Linked DNA regions of Homo sapiens: region 2 is linked to region 1. Evidence: fine-mapped expression QTL. A gene starts in region 1. The other region holds a variant in brackets. All regions are shown on one strand. Distances are between the middles of the regions.

The links. PIP is the estimated chance that this variant, and not a neighbour inherited with it, causes the effect.
Region 2: its variant is the best candidate, but not a certain one, in a credible set for the expression of EVA1A in fibroblasts (GTEx, PIP 0.84).

The regions. Positions count from the first base shown.
Region 1 is chr2:75,559,027-75,563,416 of GRCh38, reverse strand. It overlaps EVA1A (eva-1 homolog A, regulator of programmed cell death), which reads left to right and starts at 2,478. Exons shown (of 4, transcript NM_001135032.2): 1 at 2,478-2,737. RefSeq lists a silencer at 2,469-2,528.
Region 2 is chr2:75,594,111-75,598,500 of GRCh38, reverse strand. No RefSeq gene overlaps it. Among named protein-coding and RNA genes, the nearest start is that of EVA1A, 35 kb to the right of the region's middle. The variant C/T (reference allele first, on the strand shown) is at 2,465.

The sequences.
Region 1 (4,390 bases):
TAGGTCCTCTGACATAGCTCCTGGTAGAATCTACCTCTGTAGGATCCTTAAGTAGTCATTTATCTCAATGTTGGCCTTCATGCAGGGATGCATGTTCTGGAGAATGACCCGTAGGAACCCCAAGAGGGGCTCTCAGGCTAGCAACGGATGCACTTCTGTCCTGCTGCACAACCAGAAGTAGATAATCTAGATGGCAGCTCTAGTCTCTCCATACCTGTGATTCCTGAAATCTGTTGAAGTGTAGGGGGTTCAACAGTATCTGCTTCATTTTAATAAAATGAGGCAATGTTTATAAGTGAGACACAGCCCAGTGACTGGCACGTACTAAGTACCAACACATATTAGCAGTTCTTAGTAGTGGTAGTATTTTTAAATCCAAAGGTAGATTGGGTCAGAGTGCTTCCAGGTGTCCTTTCTCCAGCCTGGGGGCAAATAAGTAGGCTCAAGATTAGGGCCCATCTATAGAAAGTCTGTGCTCACCTATTGGCACCTGTGCCCTATCTATTTATTTCTTTACTAATTAGTTCATTCAACACACATTTACTGAGCACTGATTGTATGTGTGCTCCTGTACTCGGCACACAAACCTCTGATCTCTGATATTCGTACAGGGCTGTGCCCTTGGCTAACACACGTAGTATTACATCAGGAAACCCCGCTTCTCATCACAGCCTCTCCATATGCCTGCTGGAAAGCTGGAGAGTTAGGGGGAGCTCTGATGATGGCCCTTGCATGCCAGAGTGTGGAATTTGGAGTCAGGCAAGTATGTATTCTTTTTACAGATAAGGAAACAGAGGTCGGAGAGGGGAGTACTTTCTCAAGTTCAGAGAGTAATTTAGTGCTGTCTGAGGCTAGAACCTTGTTCCCTGATTAGTTTAGGAAACAAGGGCCCTTTCTACCAGACCAGTTGCCTCTGCATGAGAGTGGAATAACCTGTCTTTACGTTTTCATCTACAGATAGGTGTTGTTTTCCTTTTGAAGAGCAGCATTTCAAGGTAAAATGAAGTAGCTCTTGAGTAAGTCTGAAACAGTGGCTCTCATCTCTGGCTGTATGAGATCATCTTGAGAGCATCTGAAAAAAAACTGATGTGGGAGCTCCACCCCAGACAATTACAGAAATATTTGTGAGGGTGGAGCTGGGGCCACCTATTGGTTTTTAAAGCTCCCCAGGTGTTTCTAATAGACACCCAGGGCTCCATAGTCTAATATACAATCAGTCCAATATACAGCATAATATACAGTCAGTGGTCTAGCAGCCAGTGCTTCCAAATTCTAATGCACATTTGAATCATCTAGGGATCTTGTTAAGCTGCAGATACTAATCCAGTGGTTCAAGTGCGGCCCGAGGGTTTTCATTTCCATAAAGCTTCCATGTGGTGTTAGTACTGCCAGTCTCTGGACCACACTTGGAGTAGCAGCTCCAGAAGGCACTCTGGGATTCTAGTCATCCACGTGGTCACTGGCTACTCTAGCCAGAGGCCTGGGAGTCACCTCTCTCCTTCATCCTCTCCTCATCTTCTCCCTTTCAAGCCCTTGGTCATCAGATCTTGTCAGTTCCATCACACTGCTTCTAGGAGCTCCTCTCCTTTCCTAACGGACTGGCACAATATTTTCCTCCCTGTTCCCCACCATCACTCACTGCCCTGGCTGTGCTCTTTGCTAGACCGCCTCCTGAAGGCTTTCTTATTCCGTCTTCCCTCTGTCCAAGCTTTTATTTTGATTCTGTAGAAGGCTCTTTCACTCCGTGACCCATCTCTTAAGAGACCACCGCAACCCGGGACCTGTTCTCTCCCTGCACTCTTCCCCTATGACGATTGTATAGGAACAGGGTGTCCCTCTAGTTGTTTCTGCGTTTCCAGCCCCCAGCTGAGCGCCCATCACTCTCAATAAAATACTTGTTGATTTTAACAAACAAAACCCCAACCCTGAAAGAGAAAGGCCAAACAGAGGCCTCAGCTGCATTTCTTCCGATAAAAATGAACATTCCTTCGAGATTATGCATCAGGCTTTAACTTCCCACTCAGAAAAAAAAAAAAAAAAAAGTTGATCAAATTTAACAAAGTAAGTGGTTATTTCCTGTCTGAGTTGAGTAGCTGAATACAGGCTCAAAGCAGGCGACGGGACAGGAATGAGAGGATGGATGCTGGCAGGGGCTTGGAGGTCTGCTTTCAAATCTGGGCTCGTCCCAGCAGGGGGAAAGCCTGGAGGACCGGGATAGGTTGGGGACTGCCGATGGGGAACCTCCCCGGTCCTGCGGACAGTCGGCAGCGCGGGGAGGCAGGCAGGAGTTGGGAGCGTGAACTAACTTGGCGCGGAGGGAGGTGCCGCACGCCGCAGCCGTTCAGGTTTCGCGTCTTGCGGGCGCCCACATGGGCCGCTGGCTTGCAGAAGGGGGCGGGGGAGAGGGAGGGCAGGTCCGGAGCCAAGCGGGTGGAGGAGGGGGGAGATCGAAGGAAATGAGACAACCTTTTCCTCCCACTGACTCGGGCTCCTGCAGCTTCTGCGGGGCTTGGCGCCGCCGTCCGTGAGCACCCAGGCCGGGACCCCACATCCCCAGGCCAGCCCTGACCCCGGCGGCCCCTCCGCCGGGATTCCTTTCCGAGGTACTGGTGCCGGCCCAAGACCCGGGCAGCGCTTTGTCGTGTCCGCCCCTCAGTGATCAGCTCCGGGTCCCCCTGCTCGGCCCCGCGCGCCCCAAGCGCAGTCCCCGGAAGTGCGCGCCGGGGCCCCAGCAAAGGTAAGAGGTGCCCGAGAGCGCTCCCTGAACTCTGGGGGCGCCCGGCATCCCCAGCGGGCTCCGGCTTCTCCGAAGCGCCCTCTTTTCGGAAACACCCAGAGCACTTCTGACCTGAAGCAGCTGCTTTGTTCCCAAGTCCCTGCCCAGGTGTTGTAGGCTGGGTCCCACAGGGAACTCTGCTTCCCAGCGCTTTCTTTTTTGCCTCCTCTTCCTCCCACTTTCCTGTTTCTTCTCTCGCCCCCCCTGCTTCTTTCTGGATAGAACAACTCTCAACTCCCTGCCTCTGCAGCCCAGCTTCGGAAAGCAGGTCGTTCCCAAATCTAGCGCTTCTCTCCTGTGCCTCTGGGAGCTGGGCTGAGCCTGACTGGCTTCTATCCCAAGCCTGCGCGGGGCGGACCTGCCAGAAATGTACGTGCTGCACCGTGGACTATTTACCTGGTTTGTTTCGGAGGCAGCCAACTCGCCGCGCGCATTTGGCGACCCCCAGGACCCCGAAAGCCGAGTGCATCAGGGAGTGAAAGGCTGTTGGCGCCCCCTAAAGTCCCAGTGGGACGCTTTGCTTTTGGAGAGGGGCGCGCAGACAGTCCACGCTGCTCTATCTGGGAGGTCTGCGTGGGGGTCCCCACCCCTACTATTGAGGGGTAAGGGGAGGTGTTGGCACGCAGTACGGAGCGCGTTGGGACATGGAGGAAATGAGGATGTCCTGGAAGGAGAGGAGTGCCAACCACATCGTGCTGGCTTGCCATGTTGTTCTTATTAACTGCCTGAGTTCTCATAACAAGCCTGTGTGTAGGGACTCTTACCCCTATTTTACAAACGGGCAAAATGAGATGGGGCCACACAGCTAGCTAGGAAAGGGCCCAGCCAGGATTTGGGTCCTAGCTGGTCTATACCACACATACACTTCAAGTCCAGCCCTACAGAAGATTCTTCTTTTTAGTCTGAGCAAGAACCGTCCCCCCAACTCCCCCGCCCCCCCCCCACCTCCTTTCTCATAGTACAAGGGACCAGGCTTTTTCCGTTTTGACCTAATATACCTTGATTATATTCAAACCCAAACTACTTATTATCTACTGTCCTCTGAGTTCAGCGGCAAGCACTGAGGTTTCACCTTTGAATCTTATTAATTCATCCCCTTCTTGTCATCCAGTCTGTCACGAAATGTGTAATACTGTTCAGAAGGCTGGCTTGAATCTCCTTTCCATAAAGGCAGTCAAGCGCAGTGGCTAAGAGCCCGGGCCCTGGAGTGAGACCACCAGCTTGAATCCTGGCTGGGGCCTTCCTGTACCTTTCTGTAGCTGGATTTCCTCATCTGTAAAGCAGGGATGCTAGGGCTTAAAGTAATGGTTTTCAACGGAATTTTGATTTTACTTCCCAAGTGACATCCAGCAATGTCTGGAGACATATTTGGCTGTCATCATGTAAGTAGAAGAGGATCTTATTCATCTGGTGGGTAGAGGCCAGGGATGCTGCCACATCCTGTATTGCACAAGACATCTCCCCCCTCCCCCACTCCGCTTCCAAGATTTAAGAATTATCTAGCCTAAAATGTTAATAGTGCTGAGGTTGAGAAGCCCAGGTTTAATGTTTCACTTCATGAAGAGTGCCATTATTTCCAGCTCTCATCCTTTTATCTGCTCTAGTTTGGCTGAT
Region 2 (4,390 bases), 35 kb before region 1:
GGAGGACCTGGGGCTTATAATTGGGCGCCAGGGTTGGGGGTGGCTGCTTCTGCGGGGCACCGCAGCCTTGGAGAGGTGGCTGGTAGTTGGAGGGCAGCGAGTAGGCATTCTGGTGGGCTTTGCGGAAGGAGGGCGGGGGTCATGGACTGCAGGGCGTTTCTGAAGTCGGCGTGGACGGCTTGCTCTGCCAGGGAGAGGGGCCCCCCACAACGAGGCCATCTCCTTGGCCCATAATCCTACTTGTACTTCATGCGCCGGTTCTGGAACCAAATCTTGATGTGGTGCTGGCTGTGGTACAGCAGGTTGGCCATCTGTAGGCGCGAGGCCCACGCAGGCGGCATGGAAGTGGAACTCGCTGTCCAGCCCCACCCACTGCGCGCTCCTAGGACTCCCTGGGACTCGTGTCTTCCTCACCGCCGCTGCCGCCCCCTGTTGGATGCAAAGGGCAGGGGTGGGAAGGGGAAAAGTAAAATATAATAACTGGGGGGAGGGGCGAGGAGGCTGGGAAAGGTGACTGGAAAACAAACAAGGTGACCGAAAATGCCTTGACATTTCTCCCATTTAGTGGTGGGAACTACATCCCTCCCGCACCACTTCGCCCCACCCCACCCCGATTCTGGACAGGTTCTGTAATTGCTTGGCCTGCCTAAGTGACACTGTGCCAGTTTATGGCCTCAGGCCTTACGGGACCAGCGGCTTCCACTTCCTGCTCTGGGAATCTGGACTCTCGGAACCCAAATGCCATACTGCGAGGAAGCTTCAGCAGCCCCAGAGACACATGTGGGAAGGAGTTAGGGTCCCTGGTCAGCAGCCTCTGCCGACAGTCAGCATTTTGGAGCTAACTAGGAAGTGGATCCTCCAGCTCCATTCAAGACTTCCTTGTTGGAAATACATGGAACAAGAACAGCCGTCTGCTCAGAGTTCTCCCCAAAATGCAGATTAATGAGCAAACTAGATGTTTGTTGCTATGTGAAGCCACTGAGTTTTGGGATGGTTTTTTTGTTTGGTTTGGTTTGGTTTTTTGAGACGGAGTCTCACTGTCGCCCAGGCTGGAGTGCAGTGGCGCAACCTCGGCTCACTGCAACCTCCGCCTCCCGGATTCACGCCATTCTCCTGCCTCAGCCTCCTGAGTAGCTGGGACTACAGGCGCCCACCACCACGCCCGGCTAATTTTTTGTATTTTTAGTAGAGACGGGGTTTCACCGTGTTACCCAGCATGGTCTCGATCTCCTGACCTTGTGATCCGCCCGCCTCGGCCTCCTAAAGTGCTGGAATTACAGGCGTGAGCCACCGCGCCCGGCCGGGATGGTTTTCTACACAACACTAGGTAACCAGAACAAGGACCGAGTTGTGGGCTTTCTGACTCTCAGCCAGTGTTTCTTTCACTCTATTTTGCTGGAGCTCAGTGGTTCCCTGTGAGTCTCCTGGTCACTCAGTAGTCTCAGCGCTCTGTGAGGTTGGACATGCTGGTAAATCACCCTGCATAAGGACGGCTGGATGACTCAATGTCTTCAGCAGAAGTCACCAAACCTAATGATCATGAGAATCCCTGGGGTGTGAAGTAAGAGGTGTCCTCTACTCAACGAATTCTCTGACTCATCTATTAATTCAATTTTGACACTAACTGCCTGGAGTGAGTGTCAGGCAACACAGGGTTAAGGTCTCAGACCCACAAGACTGCTCTCACTTCAGGAGCCAGTCACAAGTATCAAGCCCCCAAAGTTACCAAATTGGCCACAAACTTGGGGGTTCTCATAGCTTCTCCTGGCCCAAGTTTTGATAATTTGTTAGAACAATTCACAGAACTCAGAAAAATGCTATATTTACTATTGAAGTTGATTATAAAGGATACAAATGAACAGCTAGGTGAAAAGGTACATAGCACAAGGTTTGGGAGGGTCCCAAGTGCAAGAGCCTTTGGGGATGTGTTTGCCAGTTTGGAAGCTCTCTGAGCCCCATCTTTTAGGGTGTTTTTTTTTTTAATGGAGATTCTGTTACAAGGGCATAATTGATTAAATTATTGGCCATTTGTAATTTGACTCAATTTCCAGCTCCACTCCCCTCCCGAGAGGTTCAAGAGTGGAACTGTGTAGCTCAAAGTTTCAACCCTCCACTCACATGGCTGATCCCCCTGGAACCCATGAGAAGCTATCTCAGGCCCACCCTGAGTCACCTCATTAGTATAGACTCAGATATGTTTGAAAAGAGCTTGTTATGAATAACGAGACATCCCTAACACTTCTAACAGTCAGAAAATTCCAAGGGTATTAGAAGCTCAGTGCCAGAAATGGGGGACAAGGACCAAATAAGCCTTTTTATTTTACTACAGAGGATTAAGTATGTAGATTCTTGGGACCTATTCCAACTGTATATTGAATTAAAATTCTTAGGAATAAGACTCAGACATCTCTTTTTTTCTTTCTTTTTTTTTTTTTTTCCTGCTGGTTTGTTGATCTTGGACATT[C/T]CTAGTTTCTAAAGCATCCCCAGTGATTCTGATGACCAGCTAGCTTTGAAAATTACTGATCATGAATCATTTGTGAGGAATTTGGAGAAACATCCCAGCATCACCTACATGCACAGATTATTCTAAACTAGACATTACTGGATTTTTCCACTTATGTTAAGATTCTTGGGCAGGATGAGTTTTTTCTACTTCTTGGTTAAGCCAACCTGAGGCCTCCAGGTTCTCTCCAGACCTGTGCTTCAACTTGGTGTTGGCCTGGGATCCTCAATATAGATGTCTCTGATGCCCCTGGGCCAGGCTAATGTGAGTTATTAATGTTGTTTGCCAACTATTTATAGCTCTTCTCTCTTCTGGGCACATGGCAGAATTGCACTTTCTTGCATCCTTTGATTAAGTGGGCCCATATACCTAGCTCTGGCCAATGATCAGAAGTGATGTGTGTCACTTCTGGGCCAGAACATTTTATTACCAGTGCAAGATCCTCCAGAATTCTCTGTCTTTCTATCTGCATGGTGGGAGTGGCAACTTTCTGAATGGCAGTTGCTCTGTTAGTATGAGTTCCTGAGTGACTGTGATGTACAGGACCTCCTTGCTGACTTACGATGGACGTGTAGTATTAGCAATAAAGAGATTTTTATTGTTTGAAGCCACTGAGATTTGGGGGATGTTTGTTATGGTAGCATAGTCTAGTCTAGCCTGATTGATCTAGGCAGAGATTGTAGGCTTATCCCTCTGAAGCTTTCTCATTCTTTTGTGGCTTTGGGATTAGGATCATGCCTCTTAACCAATTTGGGTTTTTTTTTTTCTACTTCAAAGACTTATTAATGACAAAAGTCTCTCCTTATTAATGCAGGAATTAGCACTCTTTCACCCAGTAAACTTGTCAGGGGCCTGTCAGTATTCTCAGAACAACCAGTAACTGTTGAGAAAATGATGCTATCAGTTGAATGGTAGTGGCTTTTGTTTGCTTATCATGTGCAACTCATAATTATGAATGCCGGGACATAAACTAACAAAGAAAATTCTAGTTAACAGTGTTTAAAATACTTCATAGAGTATTGTCTTTTTAAAGGGCTGTCTTACAGACATGCTTCACAATTTTTCTGAAAAGCCAGTGGTGTGAGATAATCTGTCTGTCAGTGAAATTAGTGTCGTTTTCCTACCCTCAGCAAAGGTGATATTTATTAAAACTGTTTTTTAGAGATTATTTTTCTCTCTTACTTTAGTACAGAAGTCAAGACCCCTGGTAATCAAAGAGAGGAAGCACTGCGTTACCTCCTGAGTCAGCACATAGATGGGGCTGCGTCTATGCAGCTGTGACTTGTCATTGATTGCCATTCTTTTCCTTGGGGGAAGAACATAAACTTTTTTATGGCTGCTTTCTTTCATCTTTTATGCAAAAATAGCCACCAATGCTTCTTGTGTTGGTATCCTGGGTGATGAGTTTTCTTTATTCAGTTTATAGGTAATTATCTCCCTATTAGATCAATCATTTAATTTTATTTCTACATATAGAAGTTTTTACCTTTTGTACAAGTAATATGTGTATACATTCTGTTTATAAATAATTCAAGTACTGCAAATAATGCTGAAATCCCCGTTTGCCACTTCTCATTTTCCTCTCCAGGGTGAATTATATGTGTGTATCCCTTCGAATTTTTACATACATATTTACATGCACATGTGTACTTGTGAAATTATAATATTTTTATGTTTTAATTTTTCACACAAATGGAATTTATTGTATGTACTGTTCTAAAATGGCTTTATTCACTTAACATATCTTAGAGAGTTTTCCATATTGGTATAAATGGAGAAAACTCATTCTGTCTGTTTATTTTCTATAATATGCATGTGCCATATTATTTAATAATTACCCTACTCACAGACACTAAGGTTATTTCTAAGATTTTATTATTACAATAA